Regions from separate parts of the Homo sapiens genome. Here region 1 is linked to region 2. Evidence: fine-mapped expression QTL. A gene starts in region 2. The other region holds a variant in brackets. All regions are shown on one strand. Distances are between the middles of the regions.

Evidence for each region. PIP is the estimated chance that this variant, and not a neighbour inherited with it, causes the effect.
Region 1: its variant is the best candidate, but not a certain one, in a credible set for the expression of PADI6 in memory regulatory T cells (Schmiedel 2018, PIP 0.58).

What each region holds. Positions count from the first base shown.
Region 1 is chr1:17,390,869-17,396,239 of GRCh38, reverse strand. It overlaps PADI6 (peptidyl arginine deiminase 6), which reads right to left. Exons shown (of 16, transcript NM_207421.4): 9 at 4,015-4,126; 10 at 2,158-2,265; 11 at 1,786-1,940; 12 at 1,133-1,289; 13 at 577-700. Among named protein-coding and RNA genes, the nearest start is that of PADI6, 21 kb to the right of the region's middle. RefSeq lists an enhancer at 1,320-2,519. The variant CT/T (reference allele first, on the strand shown) is at 2,049.
Region 2 is chr1:17,369,838-17,375,208 of GRCh38, reverse strand. It overlaps PADI6 (peptidyl arginine deiminase 6), which reads right to left and starts at 3,013. Exons shown (of 16, transcript NM_207421.4): 1 at 2,848-3,013; 2 at 1,976-2,153. The coding sequence starts at 2,963.

The DNA of each region.
Region 1 (5,371 bases), 21 kb before region 2:
TAATTTTCGTATCTTTAGTAGAGATGGGCTTTCGTCATGTTGGCCAGGCTGGCCTCGAACTTTTGGCCTCAGGTGATCTGCCCGCCTCAGCCTCCCAAAGTGCTGGGGTTACAGGTGTGAGCCACCATGCCCAGCCCACTCCCACAGCCTTTAGATCAGAAGTGCAATGGCACCAGCCACACCACCTCTGCTTGTCCACCTGTGTGTTTCCTTAATGTAACCAGGAGACCCACAAAGTCCCAGTCCCTAGATACTTAATCCAACATGCCCTGAATAAATCCAGGCACTAGCATTGTTAACACCCGTTTTCCCCCCACTTGGGGCCACCTATGTACTAAGTGAGTCCCCCTTCAAATACATCCAAACAGCCTCCAGGCCATCCCAGAACATCTGGTCTACTTGTGTTGTAGTACCACTAGAGCAGCCCAGAAATAAGACGTTCTAATATGGCAATTCCAACAGCTTCTGTGCTTCCCTGGCATCCTTTACGCCAAGCGTGACAGAATGGCTATGTAGAAAGGACCCCTGGAAAAAGGAAGACCCCAGTTCTGTTCTGTGGAAAGGGAGTTCCCTTACCATTAGACAGGAGCTGATCTGCTCTAAGCTCATCAAACAGAAGAGCGTCGCCATAGCCTTCCTTCTGTTTCTCTCGGAACAGTTTATAGCAGGCACTGGGGCTGGCCAGGAGCAGCAGGAAGCCCTGGGAAACAGAACTTGGGTCAGAAGCCAGCTTTCTCAGCTGGACATGGTGGCTCATATCTGTAATCCCAGCACTTTGGAGGCCGAGGCAGGCAGATCCTCTGAGGTCAGAAGTTCGAGACCAGCCTGGCCAACATGGTGAAATTCCATCTCTACTAAAAATACAAAAATGAGCCAGGTGTGGTGGCATGTTTCTGTAATTCCAGCTACTCAGGAGGCTGAGGCAGGAGAATTGCTTGAGTCCGGGAGGCAGTGGTTGCAGTGAGCGGAGATCACGCCACTGCACTCCAGCCTGGGTGACAGAGCAAGACTCTCAAAAAACAAACAAAAAAAAAAAAAAACAAGAAAAAGCCAGTTTTCTCTCCAGAATCTTCCAAGATTCCCCAACAGAAGGCAAGGGTCAGATGTCCCTTCTCCAGACCCCAAAGCAGACCTTTTTGCCCTCATTCTTGTCATCTGTGGGGATGAAGCACATGAACTCATCCACGTGGCCAGTCATTAGCCAATCTGAGTAGAGCTCCACCGGCGCTTGGACCTGCTGGGCATAGAGGAAGTCTCGGAGGGTCTTACTCATGGCCCGGCCCTCTGCGCTAGAAGGAAGATGGAAAGAACAGCTCTTGAGCCAGTGTGGCCCAGGGCTGGTCACCCGCCACTTGGTGTCATGCTGCCTCCAGGGAGCTGGCCTCTGACCGTTGTGTGAAAGAGGCCGGTCCATAGCGGATGTGTTGGTTACGAATCCCTTACTCTGACCCCACTCAGAACAGAGCCTAGTGTTTCTAGACAGACAAGCCCGGGCACAAGTATCATTTTGGATTTATGGCCACCAAGAAATCCAACCACATATCTCTTGGAAATGACATCCTGGTGGACCAAATTTCACTTGTTTCAGTTTAAACCCTGGAATCAAAGAATAAATGGTTTATTCTCATCTTTAGTCTCCCACGTGAATCAAAAGCTCAAATGTCTTCAGTTTAAGAAATGGTCCAGTGTGTGTGACCTGCTGAGGTGCTATGGGAAGCAGGCGGGGCCAGGGGAACGACCATGGTCCCTTCCTTTCATTTGGAGGCGTCTGGCTTTGTGGCTCACCTGGGGTAAAAGCTGCTGCCAATGAGGACTCTGCCCAGCGGGTACTCTTTCCCTTGGACCTTGACAGGTGGGGACACCATCAGGTTCCCAATGGAATCCATGCTGGCCACTTTATGGTCCTCAGTGTCCTGGATCATGTAGCCAATACCAGGGCTCTGGGGGAGAGACCGAGCCAGGGAAGGGGTGTTAGTAGGGGATGGCTTTAGGCCCCAGTCTTATCCCTAAATCCAGGCTCTCAGGTAGACTTCCACGTCCCCTCCCCC[CT/T]CAGAGGCCACCTGGGCCCTCTCCCCACTTGGTGCCCCATTATTTCTAGGCAGGCCCCAGGCCTGAGAGATTGGACTGAGCTCAGATTAGCCAAACCAAGTTCCACACCAGTGAGTACTTCATGGGGAACTCATCGAGATCGGCGGCCTGAGGTGTGTCGAGGATCAAGGACGTTGTCTTGTGGGGAGCCTGGGTGTAGCAGAAGGCCATCTCATCCTGGAATGGAGAGGAAGACAGATTGTTTGCCAGTCACACATCTCCCCGGACCCCATTTACGGAAAAGGTACGGTAAGAACCCCCTTCCTTCCTGCCAACTCCTGCTCAACCCTCAACACCCAGCTCAGATATCACCCCTTCTTGAAGGCTCTCCGATCCCTCTCTCCCCTACTCTTCAGGTTTAAGACTTGAGCATCCATGGCCAGGTGTGGTGGCTCACGCCTGCAATCCCAGCACTTTGGGTGGCCAAGGTGGGTGGATCACTTGAGCCTAGGAATTCAAGACCAGCCTGGGAAACATGGTGAGACAGTCTACTTAAAACAAAACCAAAAAGTTAGCCAGGCATGGTGGCTCATGCCTGTAATCCCAGCTACTCAGGAGGAGGCAGAGGCTGCAGTGGAGCTGAGATCGCGCCACTGCACTCCAGTCTGGGCGAAAAAGACTTGAGCATCCAGATTCTTCCTTTCTTCTTTCGTAAAGAATCCATTAACAAGCCTTACTGGCTTACATTCTGAGTCAGCTCTGCGCTGGTGCCACTCAGGAAGCCACCGTGTCTCCACCCTATGCCACTGTGATGCCTTCCAGTTTCGCTTCTATTCTTGCCTACTCTTAAGATCTGTTCCCTACATCTTAGCCAGAGGGGTCTTTTGAAAACCTGAACTATAACCTTTCATTCCCGATTCATGCTTTGAGTGTCTCTTGTTTGTCCTTAGCTTAAAAGGTACCTTAACCAGGAGGTAGCCCTGCCTTTCACCTTTGTTCACTGTGATCTGTCTGCATCAGCCTTCTTCAAGACCTCCAAGCACAACCCCAGATTTTTTTTTTTCTTTTGAGACAGTCTCGCTCTGTCATCCAGGCTGGAGTGTAGTGGCGTGATCTAGGTGCACTGCAACCTCCGCCTCCTGGGTTCAAGCGATTCTTCTGCCTCAGTGACCAGAGTAGGTGGGACTACAGGCGCGCGCCACCATGCCCGGCTGATTTTTGTATTTTTTTAGTAGAGACAGTATTTTGCCATGTTTTCCAGGCTGTTTTAAAACTCCTGACCTCAAGTGATCAGCCTCCCAATGTGTTGGGATTACAGGCTTGAGCCACTGCACCCGGCCAGGAACTCCTTTTAATCCTGGCCACCCCTGCCCCAAATCTCTGCATGGCCAGCTCCTTGTTTCCTTAAGTTTCATTTGCAGATTTTCCCAACTATTCTTAAACTGCCTCATTTGGTCTAATGAATCACTGTATCATCTCATTGTCTAAATTTCATAGCACTTAAAAGTTCTATCCTTGCTAACATGGGACAGCATATGTTCCAGTTTATCTCTGGTGCTCAGGATGGCGTGCCTAGCATGTGATGATCACTCATCTGCAGAGGACAGAGCTCTAGAACCGAAGGCTGACCGGGGCTCTAGACTTGGTGCTGTGCCAGAGTCAGGCGGGACCCCAGGGCAGTGGCCCAGCTCTCACAGCCTTAGCCAAAGGTATCAGAGCCTTCCGGGGCCTGGGGGTTAGGGTTCTGTGGTCTTGAACACGTGTCCATTCTGGAATGGGAAGGAGGCTGGACTCTAACTATTCCTTAGTGGCCATGACTCAGGCAAATCCTCATCTGAGCCTCCACTGAAGTCCTAAGAACAGGGCCGCCCCTATCAAGGCTTCGGTCTTTAAGGTTAACCAGAAGCCTGTGAAGTTCCTCTTAGGTGGCACATGCTGAGTCTCCCCACCCCTCCCCGACAGGTGGGTTCCCAGGTGGGGTGTTACCTGGAGCCACCTGCCCAGGCGGTTGGGGTCCTCATAGACAGATGCCACCTGGCTGTTGCTCTTCTCACTCAGCTTCGTCACTGTGTCCACAAAACCCTGCAGCTGCAGCTCCCTGCCATGGGAGAGAAGCCAGTTCTGGGAAGGCTTTCGAAGGTCCCTTACTGGTTATGACCTCCTTGTGCCAAGAGAGGAAGAACACATCCTTCTCACCAGGAGAGGTTACATCCCTGCCCGTGAGGTCGACAGAGCAACCATCCCTGACCTCGGCACAAGCCAGAAGCTCAGAGCCCATCTTGTCTGACACTACTCAGCTTTGCCCATGGCAGAGCCAGGTTGGGAAGTGCCAGTGGCGGCCCCTTCCCTGGTAGCCAAGGCCTGCTCTGTTTATACCCTTCGGTCACATTCTGCAAGTACCCTTCCTTTCGTTCTGTCACCCAGGCTGGAGTGCAGTGGCATGATCTGACTCACCGCAACCTCCACCTCCTGGGTTCAAGTGAGTCTCCTGCCTCGGCCCCCCACAGTAGCTGGGACTATACGCCTGCCACCATGCATGGTTGTCATTTTTATATGTGTGGCGTTGGGTGGGTCTTGAGCCCTGGGGTCTTCAAGCCGTTGTGCACAGCATCAGGCTCACAGATCTACAGTGGCCATCCCTTCCTTGAAGGGAAACAGCAGTGTGTGAGGCTGATGTTAAGACCACTCATCTGGCCGGACGCAGTGGCGCACGCCTGTAATCCCAGCACTTTGGGAGGCTGAGGCGGGCGGATCACCTAAGACTGGGAGTTTGAGACCATCCTGGCCAACATGGTGAAACCCCATCTCTACTAGAAATACAGAAATTAGCTGGGCGTGGCAGTACATGCCTGTAATCCCAGCTTCTCGGGAGGCTGAGGCAGGAGAATTGCTGGAACCCTGGAGGTGGAGGCTGCAGTGAGCCAAGATCACACCACTACACTCCAGTCTGGGCAACGGAGCGAGACTCCATCTCAAAAAGAAAAAATAATAAATTATCTTAAACAAACGGAACAAACAGGTCCTCAAAAGTTGGAGGTCAGCAAGGCCCTAATATTGGGAGATATTGAAATTGGGACTGTAGTCCGGCTTCAGGTCCAAAGCTCATGTTGCTACTAATAGAATACAGCAATGTAACTACTGGCATAGCACATTCATAGTATCTATGCTACTGCTCCAAAGAACCTATTTCTTGGGTCTATGCAAAGCCACAGGGAGCTACCAGCCTGACAAGGTCTAGAACAGTCTGACGCTTACTGGGGGAAGGGTGTGTCGGCTCAGTCTTGCAGGTCATATGCAGCTATATGGGGTCAAACCATGCCTGAATATCACACTGTATGGAAGA
Region 2 (5,371 bases):
GTCGAGAGCCAGGCTTGAAACCACCTGTCCACGTGAGAGCTGTATCCCTGATGGCGGGGTGATCAAGGGACTTATCCCAAAGGGATTTAAGAAACAGGCTGCCTGGCTCTAGAGCCCAAGCTTGAAACCACACTATACATCCTCCCTGCTAAACCCACTCTCCTGGGGTCCCATGTCCTACTCCATAAGGTGCACGGTGGGGAAACAGGCCTCTGGTGGCTTAAGCTGCTCACTAAGAAGGACACCCAGGTGAAGAAGCAGCGTTGGGACTCAGTCCCAACTGTGGGACTGTGTCCCACACCAGCCTCTACTTTATGCTTTTAGAAAGAGACCTGCCCTCCAGCCACTGACCCTGACCACAAGGTCTTGGTCATGAACCAGAGACCCAACCATTGGCCAGAGCATGTGACAGATCCACCCCATCCTTAAATAGAAGCTTTAGTCCTCTAAGTTCAAGGTTCTTTGTTGGCCACTCCTGAGGGTCCTGGAGGCCGAGCCCTGGGCAGAGAATGGTTCTCAGGTAGTCTGGAGTTCCACTGGCACCCACCGTGGCCTCCATTCTTATCTGAGATACCTTTTTTTGCGATGGAGTTTTGTTCTTGTTGCCCAGGCTGTAATGCAGTGGGACAATCTCAGCTTACTACAACCTCCACCTCCTGGGTTCAAGCGATTCTCCAGCCTCAGCCTCCTGAGAACCTGAGATTACAGGCACCTGCCACCACACCTGGCTAATTTTTGTATTTTTAGTAGAGACAGCGTTTCACCATGTTGGCCAGGCTGGTCTCAAACTCCCGACCTCAGGTGATCTGCCCATCTCAGCCTTCCAAAGTGCTGGGATTACAGGCATGAGCCACCACACCTGGCCAGAGACACTCAGTTCCTACCTAAGTCCACTACTTGCCTCTCAGGGAGTTGCCTGCCCTGGGCACACAGCGCAGGTGGGTGTGTGTACCTACCCCTCTGCAGCAGACATCTCCAGTAGGTCCTGTAGGGTGTGGGGGGAGGGAGGGAGAGCTCTCCCAGTCCTGAACTGCTCCATCATGGTTCTCACCCCCAGCCCCGCACTGGGTGCACCTGGAGAGCTTTAAACCAGCGGCCAGGATCCTAGCCCTGAGGTTCCATTGGTACCTCAGGTTTAATTGGTAGAGGGGGTGTGGCCTGGGTATTGATGTTATTAGCTCCCCAGTGGTTCTCACCTGCAACCAAGGTTGAACACTCCTGCCCTGAATGAGCCACCTGCTTCTACCACAGGAGAACCTCCCCAACATAGGCACCCCATTAGGGAGACAGCTTACCCAGGGGAGAATACACCCTTGGGCTCAAGCTCAAATCCTGGGTCTATCCCACTCTAGGTAGGCTACTTAGGTTTAGACACAGCACTCTGTGCCTTAGTTTCCTCATATGTAAAGTGATGGTAGGCCAGGTGTGGTGGCTCATGCCTGTAATCCCAGCACTTTGGGAGGTGGAGGCAGGTAGATCACTTGAAGTCAGGAGTTTGAGACCAGCCTGGCCAACATAGTGAAACCCTGTCTCATACTAAAAATACAAAATTAGCCGGGCATGGTGGTGGGTGCCTGTAGTCCCAGCTACTCGGGAAGCTGAGGCAGGAGAATTGCTTGAACCCGGGAAGTGGAGGTTGCAGTGAGCTGAGATTGTGCCATTGCACCCCAGTCTGGGCAATGAGCGTGAGACTCAAAAAAAAAAATAATAATAAATAAATGAAAATAAAAAATAAATCCCAGTCCTGCTGGTTGCTGACTTGGCAGGGCACCTTCGCTAGGTGCCTCTGTTTCTTTGTAAAATGGGGTCATGGAGTGCCCACACCACTGGTCTGTTGCAGACACTGGATGAGATCAGACGTGCAAAACAACGTGTTTCCCAGGCTCGAGTCACGTCTGCAGCCAGGAGGAAGCCCCAGTGGCTGTGCTAGGTCCCACCCCGGGAGATGCCCCTCACCTCTTCCCCTGAGGCTTACCTTATCCGCATCCACGGAAGGGCTGGGCGATGTCATCTTCACTGTGGCGTACGTGGGATCAGACAGGGGCCACCAGATGGTGGCGTCCTCCTTCTCAGAAATCACCGTGTTGGCCACATCGATCAAGACCCTCCCAGAGCCATGGATGGTGAAGCACTGGCACTTCTGGGGGGCACACCTGGTTTGCCCGGTAAGAGACACGCGTCAGGGCACAAACACCTTCTCAGCCTAGGAGATGACTGGCATGGGGGAGGGGACGGCTCCCGAATCCTCATTCTCCTTAGGGTGTTGAGGCAGAGTGGTCTGGGGTCCTTATTCCTACCCACCCCCTCCCAAAGGACCCCTGTGTTTGCTCTCCGACGGGCTCCAGCCCAAACCCCATCCCGCTACCGACACTGCAGAAGTTACCACAGCTACATCTTAGTAATAAGCACCCAATTCCCAAGAAGGGGGGAGCCACAAAGGATCCCCATAAAGAAAAAGATCAGGGCAAGCGACTCAGGAAGTTGTACTGTGACCCTGCTGAGTCACCTCCACCTGCAGGCTCCAGCATCTAGCAGTCTCCCTGGCCTGCTCCTCACAGCCCCCCGAGGCCAGCGTCCCCATGGTTTCACAGATAGGGGAACAGAGAGGCCAAGGCCCTTGCCTCACTAAGAGTCCATGGCAGCTGCTACAGGGCAGAGGCAGGATTTAAGTCAGAATTCTGCGTGGTTGGAACTGGGAGGCCCCCCACTAGAGACCCAAGGCTTCCCAAGATGGGGCAGGATAGTGAGGCTAGAGAAGTAACCCCCAACTCCCAGATCAAGGGGACTGGGTCCCAGGCCTGCCTGCCTGTCTGCCTGCCACCTCTGGCAGAGCTCCCAGCATCTCACCCGCTGAGATCCAAGCAGATTTCTGTGCCCAACACACAAACGGCATGGACAGGGCTGTCCAGGGACAGGTGGATGATACTCTGGAAGGACATGGCTCGGCCCTCCACGCTGACCATCCTCAGGCCTGCACCGCAGCCCTCACTCAGCACAGCAGCCTCAGACGCCCCAGGGCTCACCCTGCCCTTCCCTGTTATACAGTCCAGGCCTGTGCAGGCCACCCCCTTGTTAAGAAGGGGAGGGGTCAGCAGCTGCCCAGGTGTCACTGATTTTCCCTCTAAGAGCTTCCTGGTGGCTGATAGTCTGGGGAGCAGGTGGCATCAGAACCCCTTCATCACCAATTTATCAGGCACCTCGTGCCTGCAGAGCTGCAGGCCAGGGGAGTCTGAGGCCGGTTGCTTAGGCATCTGTGGCCTTCAGCTGGGAAGAGGAGGGGCTCTGGGAAGTCGGTGCCTTGGAGTGATCAACTTGGCCATGTTGCTGGAGGACTCAGCTGGAAGCTGTCGGGGCAAATACCTGCAGAGGGCAGTTGGGAGGAGTTGATGGTAGCAGTCAGGATGGCAATGTGTGGCAGCATGCCCAGGCTCTGGGGTCTCAGTTCTAGGGTGTGTGTCTCCTGGAAATTGACGAAGGAGCTCGGCAAAGTGCTGGACTGGTGGTTTGGTTTTGTTTTTGAGACAGGGTCTCTACCCATGCTAGAGTGCAGTGGCGCAATCATAGCTCACTGCAGCCTCAACCTACCTGGCTCCAGTGATCCATCTCAGCCTCCCAAGTAGCTGGGACTACAGGTGTGCACCACCATGTCCAGCTGATTTTTGTATTTTTTGTAGAGACCGGGTTTTGCCATGTTGCCCAGGCTAGTCTCGAACTTCTTGATCCCAGAAATCCTCCTATCTCGACCTGCCAAAGTGCTGGGATTACAGGCGTGAGCCACAGCGCCTGCCTAGACTAGGTGGTTATTAACCCTCTGGTGGTTTCAAAAATTATCAAGGGTGCTTGTTAACATTGCAAATTCCTGGGCCCAGAAGGTCTAGGGTGTGGTCCAGGAACCTGCATCCCAACCCCCAGTGATTAAGGTGAGCTCTTTGCTTACAGCTGTGTCGGTGGGGGTGGGGGCACAGCAAGTGTTAGTGGAATGAATACATCAAGCCAGGGTCATCAGCTGCTACTCATCTCAGCGGAGCCCACAGAGCAAAGAAATAGGAACCCTTCTCTGGCACAAGGAACTTACATAACTGACTTTAAAATTGTGTTCATTTCATGTCTTAAGCTTGGGTTGAGTTTTTTTTTGTTGTTGTTTTTGAGACAGGGTCTCACTCCGTTACCCAGGCTGGAGTGAAGTGGCGTGATCATGGTTCACAGCCTTGACCTCCCAGGCTCAAGTGGTCTTCCCACCTCAGCCTCCTGAGCAGCTGGGACTACAGATGTGCACCACCATGCCCAGCTAATGGTTTTACATTTTTCCGCAGAGATGGGGTCTTGTTATGTTGCCCAGGCTGGGTCATGCTTACTCCTGAATAGGTACCACAGTCACATGATTCCAAGTTCAGAGTCTCCCTCCTGCCCTGTGCCTTACCCACCTGCAGGTGGAGGTAGTGACAGTGTTACCCGTTTCTTATATGTCTTTCCAAATAAATGTTATGCATGACCAAGTAAATATGTGTGTGTATCCTTTTCTTCTTCTCTTCCTCCTCCAATACTAGCATACAGTTAGATAAATTTGAAGGGGCTTTATGGTGAGAAAGGGAAGGACGTGGAGTCTATTTTAAGGTTAAGGGAAAAAGGCTTCTGCAGGTTCCTTCGAGGTTACATCTCGAGACTAAAGAGAAAAGTTGTAAAATGTGCTCAAAGTTAAGCTGCTTGGTTACAATTACAAACTTTTCAGTTCAGTGGAGATGCCCCTGGAAGCCCATTGGGTTATCTTTTTTGAGGAAGGACAAGGAGGTCATTTAGTCATTTGCTCCACTAGAATTGCTGAACACCTACTATGTCCGGGGCGCTTTTGCTCTTTTCTTCTCTCCTCCTACTACTGTCTTCTTATATAAACGGTAGTATGTGCCACCCAGTATTCCATACCTTGCCTCTTTCACTTCATAGTTATACTGGAGAGAAGTTCTTTGTATCAGTACGTAAAAAGCAGCCTTACCCCTTTGTACAGCTGTGTATTTTACATAGGGTTGTACTGTAATATAAACATTTGTTTTCAGCCTTTGCTCTAATATGCACCCAGGTGTACCCAGCATAGGAGGTGGAGATGAGGTACTGAGTGAAGCCTGTTCGGTCAGCCAGGCTGGCTAAATTTGCAAGTTGCAGTAAAAAATTCCCTCCCTGGAGGTTTTAAGCACTCAACACAACTCTCAAGGATGTCTCTGTTTTAGTTGCTCTTGGAGGCAGGGGGTTGGTCAGCAAGACCCAAAATGCCCCTCTGGTTGGATTGAAAGTGGCAAAATTAAGCAGGCAGGAAGCACTCAGCGTGCAGAGGCTCTGATGAGACTCATCCCAAAGGGCTCACCCACCCTCACGCACA